3 separate regions of the Homo sapiens genome follow, and regions 1 and 3 are each linked to region 2. Evidence: fine-mapped expression QTL. A gene starts in region 2. Each other region holds a variant in brackets. All regions are shown on one strand. Distances are between the middles of the regions.

Region 1 (4,222 bases), 230 kb before region 2:
GGAGATCCCACATACTTAGGCTTAGCAGTTCAGGCTGTGTCCACCCAGCTTTGCTTAGGACAGCTCTGCCCAACTACCTGAGCCCAGACTCTCCCTTCACTAAGCCCTTCCTCCCTTTCTCTGGCTCCCTAGAAATTGATTTTCTTTCTAGTTGTAATCCATGTGGGTTCCCGGCTGCCTTAACCTAGAAAACGAAACAAAAAATAGAGCAGCACCTGGCTCCCAGGTACAGACCAAGCACTCTGCTCTGATAATAGTTCTAAGATGCTCAGAAAATAATTCGGTTGCGCCCATTCCAGTTCCTTGCCGACACTCCTTGGGCATCTTAGATGTGCTTCTAGACTGCTGAGGAGGCTGCATCCTCTGCTGGCTCTCTCCAGCTGTCACAGTCTACCTGCTTTTGGAACATAAGCCTTGGATCTCTATATCCTCACAGATTCCTCTTGTCGACGGGGGTGTAACCAACTTTGTAAATTAAGCTAAAGAACCAAAAAGTCGTGTCCAGATTTCTAACATCGTACCTTGCAATTTCACAAATACAGTCGCTCTACCTTTAAATCAATTGAAGAGTAAATACACCCATATGCCATGAGTCTGATACTTAAATACAGTTTTCTCCCCTTTCTTCTACACGCAGTGCCATATTCTCCTTACGAGGCAGTGTGGTGTCATGGGAAGAAGTGCTTTAGAAGCTGGCAGGGCTGGGCGCGATCCGTGGTACAGTCACTGCCTAGGACACACTGGCCTGCTAGTTGACATCTCTGAATTTGAGTTTTCTCATGCTAAATGGGGCTGGTAATATCTGTTCAATAGGGTTGTGGGGAAAACGGGTTTAAATGAAGTGATGTATTTAAAACACATTGTATTCGCCATGGGCTAAGTCTCCGCAGACTGACTCAGCACCCCTGCAGTTTACAAAGCCATTCCGCATGCCTAGTCTTTATTTCACCTCACAGCCATGAAACAGTTGTGGAAATGGAATCCCACTTTCTTAACAAATAAGGATTCAAGGGAGTGAATGATTTTTCCAAAGCCCACTGTGAGTGCATGGAAAGCTCCAGCAATTCTGGTCCAAGTATCTTTTCACTTTGTGCAACAGCAAATTAAGAGACAAACATCTACTTTCCTTTCCAACTTAGTAGAGCAGGAGGGAAAATCCTTCTAGTTAACTCTCCTGTTTCTTATGTATCCCACTCTCCGAGCACATACTGCAAATGTGCTGTTTGGGATGGCCTTCGCCACGGGACAGTCAGAGCCAACTCAAGGTGACAGCAACTCAGCAACAGAGACAGGGGCGCAAAACAAACAGCTTGACTTGCCCTGGATTATTCTTCTCCAGAAGAAACCAAGCCCCAGTTTCACTGATGGGGACAGACACACAGGGGCACGGGCTCTGACTTGGGGGAATGAAAGGGACTATGTCACCACCTGAATTTGTTGCAGGCAAATTATGAGTTCTTAAAGATTTTTTTAAGCATTTAAATTTCACCATCTGCAATCTTTTTTTCTTCCCTGCCCCCCGCCCCCACCCGAGATGCAGTTTCACTCTTGTTGCTCAGGCTGGAGTGCAGTGGCACGATCTCTGCTCACTGCAACCTCCGCCTCCTGGGTTCAAGTGATTCTCCTGCCTCAGGCTCCTGAGTAGCTGGGATTACAGGCGTGCACCACCATACCCAGCTAATTTTTTTTAGTAGAGATGGGGTTTCACCATGTTGGTCAGGCTGGTCTCAAACTCCTGACCTCAAGTGATCCACCTGCCTCGGCCTCCCAAAGTACTGGGATTACAGGCGTGAGCCACCACACCCAACCTACCATCAGCAATCTTTTGTTTCCACTTAAAAGCGGAGCCCACAAAGATGCTCAGCCAGCCAAGGGGGCTACTGAGGCTGAGCAGCCTTGCATCCCATTCCCCACTGGTACATTAGTATCTTATGACACCTTCAGCCGTCACACTTACTTCTACTGATGGCTGCTTTTTCAGGTTTCATGGATCAAAGATGCTTTTCATCGCTTATGAAGAATGGGATGGGGGCAGGGAGACAGGGTCCAGGTGCTATGATTTCGTCTGAAATCACATCCTCTTCATGCTTAGAAAGCCCTACACTTTCTCTTCTAATATTGGCTTAAAACAATGCTTGGAATCTGGTTTCAAAAAAATTGTAGCTTCTGGGAGGAAAGTTATAAGTATATAAAACATCAATTACATGTTAATATCCTGGCAACCTTAATTAAGCAGGGGTACTGCCAAGGGCTA[C/G]TTGCCTTAAAGTGAGCACAGATACCCTGTGTGCCCCTTTAATTATGGTTTTTGTTCAGTGTTTTTTGCTGGATTTGAGTAATGCAACAGTCACATCTGGCACCCTCATCAACAGGTTCTCAAAATAATGATAATCTTATATGGAACAATACCTATCTTTATTTATATAAGTATTTATCTGAGACTTTACCACTCTATAATCTACACTGACTTCTAACAGAAATGGAATAAGATTTAAACTAAGACAACTATCATTTTCAATAAATAACTTGACAGTTTTGATCAAACTTCTTAAAAATAGAAATCAATAAATACATGGGAACCAAAGCCAGGTATCCCTGGTGGTGAGAAGAGCTGGGGATCTAGAGAAGGCAGCAGAACCAGGACACTCAGGCAAGAAAAAGATGGAAGAGACAGAGTGAGGGTGACAGAATGTGAACAGAGACTTTCTTTAAAGCCCCACACTTAGAAGTTACCTGTAAGCCTCACGTTGTATTACTGCTTGATGGTCCACCTTTCCCCATCTTGGTAACTCATCTGTATAAGCCCCAAATTCAAGACCTCGGTGCTCAAATGAGAGGAAGGCAGAGCACCAACCTGTCCTGATGGGTGTGTCACCCGGGCCCTCAGACTGCCCTTTATCTATGCCTGAATGAACCAAGAAGGGAATAAACTCTTAAAAATCCCAGCTGAGTGCATTGGCTCATGCCTGTAATCCCAGCACTTTGGGAGGCCGAGGTGGGTGGATCATCTGAAGTCAGGAGTTCGAGACAAGCCTGGACAACATGTCAAAACCCCATCTCTACCAAAAATACAAAAATTAGCTGTGTGCAGTTGTGCATGCCTGTAATCCCAGCTACATGCGAGGCTGAGGTGGGAGAACTGCTTGAACCTGGAAGGCAAAGGTTGCAGTCAGCCAAGATCGCACCATTTCACTCCAGCTTGGGTGACAGAGCGAGACCCATCTCAAACAAACAAACAAACAAATAAATAGAAAATCCCAAAACCAGCTGAGAGTGGCATGCAAGGTAGGAAGATGGCAGGACTCCTCCAGGCATGCAGCATTTGTGGTTTCTGAGCAGTTGGTGATGAAATCCCCGCTGTGCAGATGCCAGGCCAGAACCTTCTAAGCAACTGCACATCTCAGAGCCTCCTCCTCTGCCAGCTGTTTTCTGAAAACACCAGAGGACTCAGGTGGCAGCAAAGAATGAGAGAGCGCAAAGGCAGGTGAATAGCAGAGGCGGCAGCATGCGCTGGAGGCTGAACAAACACAGTCGGGGTGTGGAAGGGGCAAGAACCAACGAAAGGATGAAAGAGGGAAAGAGAATTGGGGGTGCCTTTAAAACAAACCTCCATTCTCCTCCTTCCTTCCATACTAATGACACATCCATGTTTTTCTTGCCCTTTTCTTCATGTTATTATCAAGACAGCAGGAGACGGATTTACAAAACGAATGATCCCATCTTAACCTTCAGCAGTTAGAAGCTAGTGTTTGAGATGGTGAAAATACCATCATGTGTACCTGGATGAAGCACTTCCAGGCAGAGTTTTTCCATGACCCCTCCTCCCTCAACTCCAGACACATCTACTCATGACACACACATCTACTCTTAGCTGAGTCTATAGAGGAAATTGCAAAATGACTCAGAACAATTTCTCACAACTTACTTTTGCAAAAGCAAAAGCAGCCACCACTGTGGAGCCGGAACTTTATCACAAGGTGAGAATCTGCTATGAGTCATGAAAGGCACAGAAAATGCCTTGAAACTCAAACACATCTTCTTTCACTCAGTACAAGGTTTTCATTGGACTACAATCTCTACGCAAGAATATTGACAGAAGGCAGCCAGGTGACGATTTCAGAACTTTGAACAATGGCAAGCATCTGAGCAGGCCTCGGTGAAGGGGATTTAATGAGTGAATGAATAATGCGACACTACACCCACCCCCCTGGGTAAATATTAAAGA
Region 2 (4,222 bases):
TACAAAAATGTGTTCTAGTAGAAGCACTGACTACTGGAGGAGGAGGAGCTTAACTTCGCCTACGGATAAGGAAGAAAAGCTTCCTAGAGAAGGTATTTGACTGACACATTAAGAATGCGTGGGTAATTGACAGATGGGCAAGAGGAGTAAGAACAGTGTAAGCAGAATTTCATTCATTCCAAACAATGGTCTGGAAATAACAACTTCTGAGTAGCTTGGTGTGTCTAGAGCAGGCAGTGTGCAAGCGGGGGAGAGCCAGGAGGCCTGGGGAAAGTCAGTAGATGGAACTGGAAAGGCAGGCAGGTGCCACATTATGAAGCATCTTAGTATGGTATGTGAAGGTGTTGAAAGCTGATTCTGAGGTCATTAGGGGCGTGTTTTGCCACAGTAAATAATAAACTCTTCTTCAGTTATACCTTGCCATGTTCTTTTACATTTACCCAACACAAAAACCTCTGACACCCTAAAGCAACAAGTTTTATTTTCCTATAAAGTGAGCAGGTAAAATCCGGTGGAACAAAAGTTTGCTTACAAAACTGCACCAATCATGATACTATATTTTTAAAACATAACAATCTTAAGCACATCAGGAAATACTTCTAAGAGTGTATACACACAAGTTCTACTGGTTAAGCCCAAATTATAAAACCATGGACACTTTTTTATCCAGAGCCTAGGACTGAAACATTTATAGCATATGATCCGCACCTGTACGAAACTTGGTAAGATTTTAGAGACACTCTGGCTTAAATCTATTGGAAAGAGAACTGGAGATAGCCGGTGTTGTCTGTTAAAATAAGGTGGTCAGCATCATTTGGGGAGCAAAAGGTAGAATGTGTGAATAACCATGAGAAGAGAATCCCAGGCCCTTCATCGCATAGTAAATAAAGGTCTCACCATTACCCAAGGAGGCTGAGGAGTGTCACCAAGTGGCCTCTTGCCTGAATTCTGCAGAGAAAAGCAGGAAAACCTCCCCCTGAATGAAATTATCTTTGGAATCAAGCAGCCTTCTCCCTCTTTAAATAAAGTTAACCTATTTGTCTATTTTAAAAAAACGGCATGCAAGCTCATCAATATTAAATTTCGCCGCTCCTTAAAGATAGAAATACCTCGTGCAATGTTACTCCCAGACCTTTCCAGCGGCTGTCAGCAACGAATGGCTGGAAGAATGGACTCTTTTCTTTCTGAACTGTTTTTGGTAAATAGGATCCATTAGGGGCACAACGTGTCGGCTTTCACAGAAACTTGGCACCTCAGCCCCCCCAGGAGCCGCGCCCGTCCGGGATGGCTCCCGCGCTCGGAAAGGCCGGAGGGGCTGAGCAGGGACCGCACGGTCTACACTCGCTGAGCCGACCGCCTGGGATCCTGCTTCGCCGCAGCGCCTTTCTGAGGCTCCGAGGTCGCCGGGCGGGCGTGGGCGCAGCGGGCGCTCCCCTCCGGGCACCCACGGCTCGGCTTTGGGCGAGAACCTCGGTATCAGGAGGCCGGGGCGCCGCCTCCTCCCATCCGGGATGGGACCGGGGCTGAAAGTGGGTCCTGGCGTGTCGCGCAGCGCGAGGGGACCAGGGGACCTAGTTTCAGAGCCTTCTGGAAAGTGCTTCGTCCCCCGTGCCAGGCTGTGCCCGGACGCTGCCGCCCTCCGGGGAGAGGGTGCCAGGCCGCGCCCCGCAGCCGCGACCTTCCGCGGGACTCCCAGGAAAGCGGGGGCAGAGAGGGGCGGCCAACAAAGGGGAAGGGAGGGGACCGCCGGCCGCGCGCCGCCCCGCCCGCAGGGGACCTGGAGCCGCCGCCAACCAGCGCGGGTCGTCGCCCTCCTGCGCCCTCACCCGGGCGCCCCTTACCTCGGGTCGCGCGCCGGGCTCGGTGGGGCCGGTCGCGCGCCGCCCTCCGCTACCCTCGGCGCGTGGCCCTCGCGGGAACGCCGGGAGGAGTTGGAGAAGTTCTGGGGGTCACTTTGTTCTCCACTTGGACGCGCGCTGTGCGCCTGCGGCGGCCGCGGCCACAGTTACGGTTACCGCTGCCCCAGCCCCGCGCGCAGCGCCTGCCAGGCCCGAGCCGCGACCGCACCTCCCGCCCCGCCCCGCCCCGGACACGCCCCAGCCCCGCCCAGCGTCAGGCCCAGGACCCCCGCGCCAGCTCCCGGCTGGTCCCGGACCATGTCCCTCGCGCTTTCTTTGGAACAACACAAATAAAACAATTCAAGAAACATCGAGCACGCGCTCACTGTGAGCTGGGGGCTCTGCCCGCTACCGGGGATGCGATGCGCCAGTGCGACCCCGTCCCTTCCCCAAGGAATTTAAAGACGGCTCTTCCCGGGTCCCACCGAGGAAAGGCACGCAAAACTGAGGTCAGCGGCCGCAGAGACTTTCCATCTCCTTCCCCTTCTGAGAGGAGATGGCTTCGCAGCGGAGATGGCAATCGAGTCGGCACTCCAAGACCCAGTCGAATTGGGACTTTCCAGGTGGAGAAGCTGCGATTTTTATTATTATTTTTTCAGACTGAGTTTCGCTCTTGTTGCCCAGGCTGGAGTGCAATGGCGTGATCTCGGCTCACCGCAACCTCCGCCTCCTGGGTTGAAGCGATTCTCCTGCCTCAGCCTCCCGAGTAGCTGGGACTACAGGCACGCGCCACCACGCCCGGCTAATTTTGTATTTTTAGTAGAGATGGGGGTTTCATCATGTTAGTCAGGCTGGTCTCGAACTCCCGACCTCAGGTGATCCACCCGCCTCGGCCTCCCAAAGTGCTGGGCTTACAGGCGTGAGCCACCGCACTGGGCCAAAGCTGCGATTTTTATTAGAAAAGCCTGAGTGGCCCAGTGGGCCCAGATGCTGGGAAGGGCGAGGGAGCTAAGGAGACCCAGGAATGAAAGCTGCCTGGAATCACTCTCCTCGCCTTGAAAAAGGCTGCACCCTGGAGAGGAGAGGGAAGGGAAGGTAGATGCAGGCCATGTGTTAGGGTGGGTCCTACGAGAAGCAGCGCCCACTCAGGACTAGATGCGGAGGGTTTTCTTGGGGGAAATGGCCGTGGAACTAAATGAGGAGGGAGCCGTGAGAGCTGGAGAGGGCCGGACCTTCTGCAAATCAGAGCCCAAGTGAAGGAGGGAGGGAAGCACCCATCCCGGCCTCCCTGCAGTCTAAGAAAAGCTCAGCAAGATCATCCGTGAGCCCTTCAGCCAAAATTACGCATCATGGGGATCCCGATTCTCCCCGGAACCTGCCTGCCTTCGTGTCCATGCCGCCACCAGTCCTTGGCTGGGAGCGGCCAGGTGGGAAGGGTGGCGTTGGGCACAATCCCAGTGCTGGAGTTCAGAGCACAGCAGCCAGGGCCCTGGTCAGTTAGGTGCAGTGCGTGAATACGACCCAGTCTCCGTAACGGGAGATCCGTGGAGAACTGTGAGTCAAAAAGACAAATGAAATCAGCTTTCCCACAACACACCCAGTATCAAAAGGAAGCCTCCAGGCTTTGCGGGGATCGGACAGACCTGCTCTCCACCCTCAACCACCACAGGCTCTGTACACACCGAACTAGTAGTGACTGGCCCCTCCCACTCTGTAGGCCCTCCCCTGGTCTTGTCTGCATCTTTGCGCACTTGGCTCTGCCTAGGAAAATATCTTCCCACTCCACTCACTCTTCCATGCTCAATTCAAGCATCACCTCCAAAGACCTTTTCTTCCTTGACATTTATTTACTGTTTTGTGGGTGGGGTGGGGGGGGGCGGTGCTTGCTTTGTTTTGAGATGGAGTCTGTCTCTGTCGCCCAGGCTGGAGTGCAGCGGCACGATCTCAGCTCGCTCAACCTCCACCTCCCGGGTTCAAGTGATCCTGCCTCAGCCTCCCAAGTAGCTGGGACTACAGGCATGCACCGCCACACCCAGATAATTTCTGTACTGTTAGTAGACACGGAGTTTCACCATGTTGGCCAGGCTGGTCTCGAACCCCTGACCTCTAGTGATCTGCCCACAGCCTCCCAAAGTGTTGGGATTAGGGTGTGAGCCATGGCGCCCGGCCAACACTTATTTACTTCTTACTTCTGACTCACACCTACCACACTGAGACGGGGGGTGGGGGGGTGCTGGTATGTGTTTATTTTTCTTGCTTCTTTTATTGCATTTTTCGCACTATTTTAAAATATTTTTCTGATTATAAAAGTAACATGTTTGTTGTACAAACTTGAAAAAATATATAGAACCCAGATGGCTCTAATTCCTCTCCTCTTGTGAGAC
Region 3 (4,222 bases), 190 kb before region 2:
GTACAGCTGGGGCTCATTCCAGGGCCCATCTGCAGAGCTGTGTAGACTGCACCTCAGAACCGTTTCCACCAGGGTAAAGAGGCTGGGGTAGCATCCACCAAAGCCCAGAACTCCCTGGGTGAGTCAAAAAACCAGTATAGGGCAGCCCAGGACCTGAACCCACGTCTGACTCAAAACCTGTATGCTTGTCACCCTGCCATCTCTCAGAGTTTCCACAAACACAGGCTTCTCTTGTCATTCAGATGTTGCATATGAATGAGAGACCTGGTCTTTTTTCACTTTTATCTTTTAATCCACCCACCTACCCTTATTTTCTTTTCCCCTCAACCTTCAAAATGGAAGACTTCCTTCTGAGATGTTTGCCCAAAGGCATGTAACTTCCTTCACAAGCAACGCAACTACCTCGAAAAGAAAAAGAAAAGCCTCTGTTTGTGGTGTCTGGGGAAGGAGTCTGCTGGGGCTGTTTTTTCCAGCACAGGCGACATCACTATGGAACAGCCACCTGGAGCTTAGGAGAGGGGAGGAATGGTAAAGCTCAGGGCAGAGGTGGGCGGGGCGCTGCCTGGGAGACTGTCACACCCACAGAGCACAGTCTTGCCAGGACACCAGGAAAGGGTTAGTGGCTCCCACTAGGCTGGTAGTGGAAGAACCTGCAAGATTCCATCAGGAGGACGTGATGTGGACAAGCACCGTGCCTGCCTGGCTAACTAAGCTCTCTGTCCACACAGACATTGGTTGTAAAGGATTAGACAGTCCGAATGGCTGCCTAAGATGAGTAATAGAATAGCTATTTAACAGATCCAGGACTGCCTCTTTATTCTGTTTCCTTGCCAATAAATAAATAAATAAATAAATAAATAAATAAATAAATAAATAAATAAAAGTGGCTTAACTCACCTGCTTGATCCTTACTATTTAAAAAAAAATTTAAAAAGAAAAGAAAAACAGCCGGGCGCGGTTGCTTACACCTGTAATCCCAGCACTTTGGGAGGCTGAGGAGGGTGGATCGCTTGAGGTCAGGAGTTCAAGACCAGCCTGGCCAACATGGTGAAACCCCATCTCTATTAAAAACGCAGAAATTAGCCAGGCGTGGTGGCATGTTCCTGTAGTCCCAGCTACTTCAGAGGCTGAGGCAAGGGAATCACTAGAAACCGGGAGGTGGAGGTTGCACTAAGCCAAGATTGCGCCACTGCACTCCAGCCTGGGTGACAGAGCAAGACTGTCTCAAAAAAAAAAAAAAAAAAAAAAAGGTAAATTTGCCCCTTTCTCTACTTTCTACAGGAATTCATTCCCGCAAGTACCAAAAGTATTATAGCCTCTGTGGTAATTTCTTATTATGATAAAATACATAGAGACATAACACAGGTAGTGAATGTATCCCTCAAGAGTAATGAATCCAACAAATGGACACATGTATGTATTATATGGAATACTCAGGCCCATAACAGCAGCCCAGGGTAGCTGAATGATGGCCCTAATATACCCAAGTAATTAATAAGTTCCATCATAATTTTTGTTTTATGACATTCACTTTTATATGCCAATAGTCCATTTAATGGCATTTTAAATTAGAGGAAAGCCCCAAGAGAGGAGGAGAAAGCACGAGATACCTTATTGAATCGCAAATCTTACCATCTGATTTTTTAATTCCAAAAATGACCTAATAAACTTCCTTTATAATTAAATCAATCCTAACAACTTCTCTTTGGTGTTTTTTCATTCATTTTTGGTAATCATGCAGAGATTTCAATTGGAAATCCATTATTATCGTAATTAAGTATAAAAATTGCTCTGTGTTCTCCCAGGAAAAAGACCCCACACTTGGTCTCCTGTGGAGCTTGACCCGGGCTCTCCAGAGGTATAAAGCGAAACTACTGGTTTTCAGTACTAGCCGAGCCCCTAATTTACTTGACTGCAGTACATGAAATACACATGAATGATCAACTCAAAACTTCAGACCTTCAAATGATTTCCTCATATGGAAGTCTTACCGTGAGAAAACTAAACTGGCACACAGTTTTTCATTTTTAGGCCTTCACAAAGTTTTAAAATTCATGACCTACATTAAAAGTTTGCTGTTTACTGGCCAGGCACGGTGGCTCATGCCTGTAATCCCAGCACTCTGGGAGACCGAGGCGGGTAGATCACCTGAGGTCAGGAGTTTGAGACCAGTCTGGGCAACATG[C/G]TGAAACCCCACCTCTACTAAAAATGCAAAAATTAGCGAGGCATGGTGGTACACGTTTGTAGTCTCAGCTACTCAGGAGGCTGAGGCACGAGAATCTCTTGAACCCGGGAGACAGAGCTTGCAGTGAGCTGAGATTGTGCCACTGCACTCCAGCCTGGGTGACAGAGTGAGACTCTGTCTCAAAAAAAAATAAAAATAAAAATAAATTTTAAAAAAGAAAGTTTGCTGTTTATTAATAAAGTAGTACTTAACAAAAGATATAACTGAACTGAAATGCACGGGCTGTTCTAAGAGCCCAACAGAAGACTGCAAAATGGTTGTGCCTTAGATTCAACTAAATAAGAAAAATCTTTCCACTTTGGCATTTATGCAGGCTTTCATCTGCCTTCAGTCACAAAGGAACTACAAGACTAAACATTATGGGTGATTTTTAAAGAGTCCATGATTTTTTTTTAAATGTTATTTTGTGCAAAAATAATTATTTTCTATTTTAATGAAAGCGCTATAATTACTAAAACGCATGAAATTTTGATAAAATCTACTCCAGTTGGCATCTGTGTTCTTCTAATAAATTAGAAAACATTCTTTGAACAGCTTAAATAATCTGAGTTTGCAAGCAAAATTACAGCCTAAAAATATTGGCTGTTGATACCAGCAGTTAAGAAGGAAGACAGAACAAAGCCTTACCATTGGCTGTATTCTTTTTAAAGTTATCCAGGAATTCCTCCAGCAGTTGGGACTGGTTAGGAGGGGGCAGCAGACTCTTCTGGTCCCTGGAGAACAGGTCACTGTCTGACCAGGATGTACACAGGGTTGCTTTTGTGTCCGGAGGCCGGGCAATCAGAGTGAGTCCGACGCTCTTCTCAGAAAACAGGGCCTCCATCTGCTTAAGGTCAAGATCAGACACAGCTTCCCCATTTAAGGTCATGATCTCATTGCCCTTTCTCAGCCCTGAGAAAAAGGAAGGAGAAACAGAAAAAAGAGAGAGGGATTACTGTGAGAAATATTTTCAGATGAAAGAAGGCTGCAAACTCAAACCATGTACTCGTAGGGACTGTTTTGTTTGTTGCTTTCTTCAAAGAAAGTGCCAGCCAGGCACAGTGGCAGGTGCCTGTAGTCCCAGCTAATCAGGAGGCAGAGACAGGAAGATCACTTGAGCCCAGGAGTTTGAGGCCAGCCTGGGGCTATATAGCAAGACTTCGTCTTTTAAATAAGAAAAACAAAAAAGAATTAAAGGGCCAAAATGTATAGTATTTAGATGCCACTAAGAGCAAAACAAATGTTAGCTCTCTCACAGCTACTATTCGAAGAAACAGTTTGAAAGATCTCAGCTCACTGCAACCTCTGTCTCCCCGGTTCAAGAGATTCTTGTGCCTCAGCCTCCTGAGAACCACTCATTCGTTGTTTTTTCTAGTGTTCCCATGTTAACTTTGTTCCATCCGTGTCCGCCTGTCTGTCTCACACTCTCTTCCTCCTTCCCTCTGTCTATATATATGTATACACTTACTCTTTTAAACACACACACACACATGCTCTCTCTATATATAGGCATATGCATTTTCTTTCTTTTCTCTCTCTCTGTCCTTTTTTACGGAGGCAGGAGTCTCACTCTGTCTCCCAGGCTGGTCTTGGGCTCCTGGGCTCAAGCAATCCTCCCATCCTCCCACCTCAGCCTCCTGAGCAGCTGGGTTTATGCGAGCGAGCCGCTGTGTTTGGTCGCATTTCCAATTAAACTCTTACGTTTACTTTCTTTAAAATTCCAGGAGCAACCTTTTTCTGACAAAACTGTAAGAAGAAACATTCACTAGCCAGACTGTATCCCACAGTTTCAAATTAAGAGGCAACAGGGGCACGGTGTGCCACACGGACCTTCCCCATACGCCAGGCCATCGGGAAGAACGTCGCTTATAAATATCCGGCTGAGATGCTGACGCTCATCCACCTGCGCTGTAACTGCAAACCCTAGGAATGAAAACAAAAGGAAAAAGCAAGTCTCAGCCCACCACACTGAATTTCTCCAACCACACCGGCAGTATC

Evidence for each region. PIP is the estimated chance that this variant, and not a neighbour inherited with it, causes the effect.
Region 1: its variant is fine-mapped to the expression of TIAM2 in whole blood (TOPMed, PIP above 0.99).
Region 3: its variant is the best candidate, but not a certain one, in a credible set for the expression of TIAM2 in lymphoblastoid cells (GEUVADIS, PIP 0.80).

Annotation. Positions count from the first base shown.
Region 1 is chr6:155,223,975-155,228,196 of GRCh38, reverse strand. All of the region lies in intron 15 of TIAM2 (TIAM Rac1 associated GEF 2), which reads right to left. Among named protein-coding and RNA genes, the nearest start is that of CLDN20, 38 kb to the left of the region's middle. RefSeq lists an enhancer at 3,244-4,222. The variant C/G (reference allele first, on the strand shown) is at 2,255.
Region 2 is chr6:154,993,112-154,997,333 of GRCh38, reverse strand. TIAM2 (TIAM Rac1 associated GEF 2) reads right to left here and starts at 2,019. Exons shown (of 27, transcript NM_012454.4): 1 at 1,842-2,019. RefSeq lists enhancers at 912-1,517, 1,518-2,125 and silencers at 1,762-1,841, 1,932-2,071.
Region 3 is chr6:155,182,151-155,186,372 of GRCh38, reverse strand. TIAM2 (TIAM Rac1 associated GEF 2) reads right to left here. Exons shown (of 27, transcript NM_012454.4): 13 at 4,055-4,147; 14 at 2,873-3,136. Among named protein-coding and RNA genes, the nearest start is that of CLDN20, 80 kb to the left of the region's middle. RefSeq lists enhancers at 1-206, 207-1,014. The variant C/G (reference allele first, on the strand shown) is at 2,186.